2 linked regions of the Homo sapiens genome follow. The protein of the gene in region 1 purifies or fractionates together with the protein of each later gene. This does not show direct contact. Each region holds a gene or a part of one and is shown in the gene's direction. Other genes may lie near its edges.

Evidence for each region.
Region 2: the proteins of ANKRD44 (region 1) and MTCL1 purify together in Homo sapiens (affinity purification with mass spectrometry; 4 studies listed by BioGRID and IntAct, with this or other methods). This does not show direct contact.

What each region holds. Positions count from the first base shown.
Region 1 is NC_000002.12:196,989,395-196,992,853, reverse strand, and holds part of ANKRD44 (serine/threonine-protein phosphatase 6 regulatory ankyrin repeat subunit B), read left to right. Parts: intron 1-45; coding exon of another isoform or gene 46-98; exon of another isoform or gene 99-1,707; intron 1,708-1,757; coding exon of another isoform or gene 1,758-1,774; exon of another isoform or gene 1,775-1,926; coding exon of another isoform or gene 1,927-2,174; exon of another isoform or gene 2,175-3,204; coding exon 3,205-3,263; 3' UTR 3,264-3,459. UniProt on the Homo sapiens protein: Putative regulatory subunit of protein phosphatase 6 (PP6) that may be involved in the recognition of phosphoprotein substrates.
Region 2 is NC_000018.10:8,711,927-8,715,576, forward strand, and holds part of MTCL1 (microtubule cross-linking factor 1), read left to right. Parts: intron 1-2,215; exon of another isoform or gene 2,216-2,323; intron 2,324-3,650. UniProt on the Homo sapiens protein: Microtubule-associated factor involved in the late phase of epithelial polarization and microtubule dynamics regulation.

The sequences.
Region 1 (3,459 bases):
AGTATTATAATGTATTAATGTAACTCAATTAACTGCTTATTACAGGTATTGGAATTAGCAGCTCATGCCTATTTCTCAGAAGTAAGCAGCCATACTGATTATCATTAGCTAACTCTTATTAGTTTTGATTTTGCAGCCCCATGTATCCTAGCATGTACCCTGCTGTGTCCCCCACCTGACTCATCTAGGAAGTGCAGAAAGTTCCCTATTACTCCATTTCCTTGGTTTTCCCGCCTCACCTTCCCTCACCCTCTTAACACTACTGTAGACTTAGGGTTGGCCTGCAGAGGCCCACAGTTTTTCTCCAAAATGGTCAAAGAGAATAGAATAAATTAGTTTTGCTTTTCCTGGTGTAAATCTGCTGCATTGAAGGTTTGTTCAGCTGATAGTGACCTTAGGAACAAGAGCCCTGGGTTGGTGCGCACCTGCATCCCAAAGGCCTGGGAACGTTTGGGGCAATTTTATATAGCAGTACAACCATAATTCCTTTACTCATCACTGACTTTCGTGAAATGGAATGTTAAACTACCTGTTCATTCTTATTTGTTTTCATACCAGAAAAAGGAATGATGTCCTAAAGGGCAGGGTGGGGAGAGCAGGTCGAGTGATGATAAACAAAACAACAAAACGTTAAGTTTCATTGAGCCATTCCTCTGAATTACTGAGCAAGTGCCCTACTCACTGTGTAGTGGAAACTTTGGCCAGCTGAGAAGGCAGCTAACCCTTTTCAGGCCAGTAGGATAAAGGTTGGATAAGGAAATAATCAAGTCAAAGACTTAATCTACCTCCCCAAGGAACCTATATTATGAGTTAAGACAGTTTTCTTATCTGGATTGGATCCATTGAGTCTAAATGAGAATAACATGGTTCTAATTATGACAAGCATAGTAATTTTCTCACATCCATTACATTTTAGATTTGAGACTTTGATTGGTGAGTGGCCATTTTTAAATATTCTGTTAGGCCAGGTGTGATGGCTCACGCCTTTAATCCCAGGACTTTGGGAAGCCAAGGTGGGAGGATCGCTTGAGCCCAGGAGTTTGAGAACAGCCTGGGAAACATAGCAAGACCTTGACTCAAAAAAAAAAAACCAAAAAAAGAAAAAATCAGCCGGTAGTAGTGGCACACACCTATAGTCCCAGCTACTCGGGAGGCTGAGGTGGGAGGATTGCTTGAGCCCGGAAGACAAGGCTGTAGTAAAATCAAGGCCCCATGCCACTACAATCCAGCCTGGGTGACAGAGTGAAACTCTGTCAAAAAAAAAATTTGTTAAATTTCTCCTAAATGATTGTACATTTTTAATCACAAACAACCTGTGCTTTCCTGTCTCTGATCTACTGAAATGATTCCATTTTTCTAAAACCAGTTATTGGTGTCTATTTTCTATGAAGCATATATAAAGTGACAAAACTTCATTACTCACTTTTGCAGTCATCTAATTTTCAATATCTTTTCTAATTGGACACACAATTACCTAACAATGGAAAGTCATTGTTCTCAGAATGAGAGTCCTTCTCAGGCCCAGGCCTGAGGCTCATGGTGTGTGTGTGCTCTCAGGCGGAAACATCCTCCTGATTGTCCTGTTGCTGTTTATTGTGGAATTGTGTCCCACACCCACCCCCTTGTGTTTGTGTTCACTAAATGAAGGCTGGAATCCTGCCTAACTTTGGATGATATTGTGCTTGTCATAGTCATATGAGCTGAAAACAAAAATAAAAAGCCCTCCATAAAATGTCTCCCCCTCCCTCCCCCTCTAGCCTCACCCCTAGCATGACTTGTGAGAAGTAACTCCTCGTTTTACCTGGCATGATTTCTAACTCAACATACATCTCCGCCTGTGAGATCATCCGAGATGTACTGTGGAATGCTCGTGCCTCCTCTAGGCTCCCCAGGACTAACCACTGCCTTGTCTGCATTTACGCCCAGGTCATACCCCGGCCCTGGCTTGCGCTCCTAACAAAGACGTGGCTGACTGCCTGGCCCTCATTTTGGCTACCATGATGCCTTTTTCTCCTTCCAGTACAATGATGGCTGTCAACTTCGTTTGTTTAAAAAAAGACAATTTGAGCAGGACGACCCTCTCCAATCTGGGTAGCATGGTTAGCCTGTGCAGTAACAACGTAGGCTCGGAGGATGGGTACAATGAAAATGATTCTGATTCGGAAACGTTTTGACTTTGGACTGTAGAAGCTTTTCTTTGATCACCTGTGTTGGAGGAAAGGAAAGAAGCTTGAATTCCAGGTTTATGTTGTATTCAAGTATTATTTGGGGCCTGGGCTTCCAGAAGCTAGTAGAGAAGGAATTAATCGAGGGAGGGCAGTGAGGCTGTTGGGTGGAACAGTCACACAGATGGCCCCAGTTTTGTTTTGTTTCACATTTTCTTTAAATCTAAGATACTTCTGTGAAAGTCTACCTCTCATTTTAAATAAAGAATAAAAGATGTATTTAATTCCTGTTCTTTGGGGATAATGCAGCAGAGAGGCAGCTGTTCGCTATGAATAATTTTTCTTTTCATGTATTTAGCAGTGAGTTCTCAGAAGTATATCAGTGTGACATTCATGTCCCCTGGGAGGGAAGGGAAGAGGCAGATAGGAAATGCCTCAAACTTCTTCTCACTTTGATGTTTACTTCCTCACTAGAAGCCAAAGGTAAAGGTGTCCATCTTCAGAAATAATGCCTGTAATAATCTTTTTAGAGAGTCCAACTATTTATATCCTCTCTATAGTAAGCATTTGAATATCCAGAACTTCTTTCTGAGGATCTCTGTTAAAGTTGCCAGATGAATTGAAAAATTGAACTTGCTTTTTTTGTTTAACACAGTGTTCCCTATAACAAGCCTGTGACTAATTTTCACTTAAGTGATTGAACCCAAATTTATCTAATAACATTTCAGGTGAAAATTATATTGCACCAAAACTTTGACACAATATGCAAAAATAGTATGAAACTACCCTTTGTTAATTTATTCTTAAATCAAAATACTAACTTTTAAAAAACATCAGAATCATCAGCATTGTTCATCAGTAGTAAAATGAGCTTCTCAGTCAAGGTCATACCAAGTCAGTGAAAAGTGTGACTGCAAAAAGGAACAAAAAAAGTGAAAGCAGAAAGTAGAAATGGGTGATTTAGCATGTAAAACCGATTGCCAGTTGCTTGATGATGAAATCAACATAGTGAATACTGTGTCTGCTCCCTCTGCCAAAGCTTCTAGGTCAAATGGACCCCGTTCCACACCTGGAACCGCTGTACAAAAAGAAGAATGAGACTCTTTAAAAATTATGCACATACACATGCACACATATATGTGTGCGTGTGTATATATATATATATGTGTGTGTGTGTGTAGTTCATCAGCCAGCTACACATGAGGACCAAAATGCTTCAGTCTAAAATGGAAGATACACATTTTTTTCCTTCAAAATGCAAGTGAGAACTGAAGTAGCTTTTTTATGGAGTTAA
Region 2 (3,650 bases), on another chromosome or scaffold:
TCGAGTGCTCGGAGACAGTCAGACAAGCCGGAGTGCTCGTTGTCAACATATTAATTATGTTCTCTGTTTCCACAGGCTTTTCAGGAGGATTTAATCAGTTGGCATTTATGAGCCTATTTTGAAAATGCTTTTAGCAGCCATAACCCCACACCTCCCCCACCCCCAAATAGTGTCCTCTTGCCATGCTGACCTCCTGCAGGGTGGGTGAGGATTGGGGTGGGAAGAGCTGTTTCTTTTTGCTTTGCTTTGCTTTCTCAGTTATTTCATAGGAAATATTTTTCTGTTAAAAGAAAACAAGTTGGTGCTAGATACAAGGGCAGAGAAAATTGGCTTCTTGGAGAGGAATGATTTCCTAAGGGAGAGGTTGAGTTTTGGTTTTATAGGTTGCAGTGTCTCACTGCTGATCCAAGCTTACCATCCTGCTTCTCATTGGAGTTAGCCTTTTGAGTTTCAGGCCCTGACCTGGTTTTTGACATTTGGCAGCTGGGCTGCCCAGATGCCGGGTGCTCAGTGTGGCCTGGGGGTGGAGGGGCACTTGGAGAGGAGCGCAAGCAGTGCTCTGTAGCTGAGGTGTCTCAGCGCCTCCTTGCTCCCCGCCTCCTCCTCCTTTCTCTTTCAGAAGGGTTAACATGGACAGTATTCCCCATTCTTTCCTGACATTCGCTGTCCATACCCACTCTGTATTCAGCCACTGAAAGAGTGGCTATGATCATTTTCAGTGGCAGTTAATGTAGACAAGGGCTGCGGCCACCAGCTGCTGGCTGGACCATCACCTGGTAGACAGTGGGAGTCGCCCTGCACCTCCTTAGTTACAGCTGGGACTCTTGGAGAACATTTCCCTTGTCTGGAGGGAAATGAGGTGGATTATTCGTATGTTACAAAAGACAGTAGTTTCTGTCTGCCCAGAAGATAGAATTATTGCAGCAGTAGCCAGAGGACTCCTTCTACCATCCAAACTGGGTCTATTTAAAGAGGAGGTGCTAAAATAGAGATAGTTACTGATTTTGGGTATTTAAAAGAGATTAAGATTTTCATATAGTTATTAACATGATTAAGAGTTTTCATCACTTATACTAAGAAGCCATGGATTTGACTTTTATTATATATTCATGGATAAAACTATCCTTTTAGAGGTTTTCATTAAAACATATAATTTTAATCTTGGTTTACTCTAGTGCACACCTGGTACCTCATTATTCCTCTAATTTGAGATACATGATAAGGCTTGATTTGTCAGCCACAGGCAAAGGGGAATAGTCGACTGGACTTCACAGTACTTCAAGATTTCGTTTTATATACAAAACTTTAAAAAGGTATTTAATTAAAACTAGCTTTTCAATGAGATAATGATTTAATACTTAAGTATCCTCCAGACTTGATGTTAATTCAGTAAAAAACTATTAAGGACAGCTTTTTCTTATTTCCGTGTATAAAAAGACAACAGCGATTTTCCAATTTTATGTACTATCTCTAAATTACACCTGTCAGAAACATCATATGCTCTGCTCGATTTGGTTTACTTAAATTTTTAGTTGGCAGATGTCATTAAGGTTCTGCAATACAGTTTTCTAAATTGGAGCATGCCGTCAGAAAATTAATGTAATGTTAGTTTGAAAATCACTATCCATCATGACCCTAATTCCAGTAATCATAGTTTTTGCTTTTCAGATGGCTGCTGCCAGCTTACATGGTTTATAATTTGCTTGTCTTTAACTTCTTTTCACTGAACCTGAAAATTACTTTTTTCTAGGCTCTCTGGGAAGAGTTGAAACACTGGCCCTGGTCCTATTGCTGCAGCAGACCAATAATGGTGGAAAGCCATTTATACTTTTAGAATCTCAGTTTCCTCGTTTTAAAGATGGGAGTATTAGCCAGGCATGGTGGCATGTGCTTGTAATCCCAGCTACTCAGGAGGCTGAGGCAGGAAGATCACTTGAGCCCAGGAGCTCAAGGTGGCAGTGAGCCATGGCTGCACCACTGCGCTCCAGGTTGGGTCACAGAGTGAGACTCTGTCTCTTTAAAAAAAGCGGGGAAGGGGCACGGATATCTTTACCGCACGTTGCAGTGTCTTCCTAAGAACCAGTTGCCCTAATGGATATGCTTTGTGTCGTCACTTGTCGAGCTGTAAATGTTAGGCTGCTTTTTTTGTTTTACACTGATGGTGGACTTTTAAAAGTACAATTGAAGGTCTGTTATTGTTTCATTTGTCCAGGTTGAAGCAAATAATTTATGGTATTTACTCGAAAGAGTGTGTGATTGAAAGCAGACAGGCCTGGGTTTGCAGTGTGGCTTCAATTTACTAGATGTGAAGCTTTGGACACAGGTAACTAGCCTCAGTTTTGTTTTTTTGTCTATCAACTGCATAATGTGTTCCTGACAGGGTTATTGTAGGGTTAGTAATGAGGGTGAGGTGCTTAATAAACGACGCCTGTTCTGTAAATTTAGGTAAAATATGAATTATAAGAGCAGTGATTTAAATACATGCCGTTATGGTGCATTGGTCCATTTTTATACTTCTGTGAAACACTAGACTGGGTAATTTATAAAGAAAAAAGGGTTTAATGGACTCACAGTTCCACATGGCTGGGGAGGCCTCACAATCATGGTGGAAGACAAAGGAGGAGCAAAGACACATATTACATGGAGGCACGTAAGAACGTGTGCAGGGAAACTGCCGTTTATAAAACCATTAGATCTCTCTTGAGACTTACTCACTGTCACGAGCAGCAGAGGAGAAACCCGCCCCCGTGATTCAGTTACCTCCCACTGGGTCCCTCCTGTGACACGTGAGGATTATGGGAGCTACAGTTCAAGATGAGATTTGAGTGGGGACACAGCCAAACCATATCATATGATCTCTCCCTAATTTTCTTTTCTCTTTTTTTTTTGAGGTGGAGTCTCACTCCATCGCCCAGGCTGGAGTGCAGTGGCGCGATTTCCACTCACTGCAAGCTCCACCTCCCGGGTTCACGCCATTCTTCTGCCTCAGCCTCCCGAGTAGCTGGGACTACAGGTGCCCGCCACCACGCCTGGCTAATTTTTTTTATTTTTAGTAGAGACAGGGTTTCACTGTGTTAGCCAGGATGGTCTTGATCTCCTGACCTTGTGATCCGCCCGCCTCGGCCTCCCAAAGTGCTGGGATTACAGGCGTGAGCCACCGCACCCGGCCCCTAATTTTATTTGCAGTACAACTAATGTTGGTGATTATTTGTGCCAAAAAATATTGCTATTTACATCTGGTCTGCTCAATGATGTGGAGGTGTGGGTGCATCTAGCCCTTGAACAGTTTTCATAGCCTGTAACATCTGTATGAAAATGCAGCATTTAACATTAGGGTGGATGTGGGCTCTCCAGTTGCAAAGTCTGAAAGCTAGAGACATTTTATACCTGGAAGCTGTATCTTGCATCTTAGGGCTATATTGCATTTTAAAAACTTTTGTCTTAGTTGCCGATAATCCCAGGCATTAATGACTTTGGCAGGCTTTCTGGAAAGAAAAGCAATCACAAACCATTCTTTCCATGAACAGAATGGCCAGAGTCACTGTATATTTGTATGTGTGGATATACATGTACATATACATATACAGATATTGACTTAGTGTTGAACATTTAGTGATTATTGCTTGTATTGAACTGATTTGTATTAATGA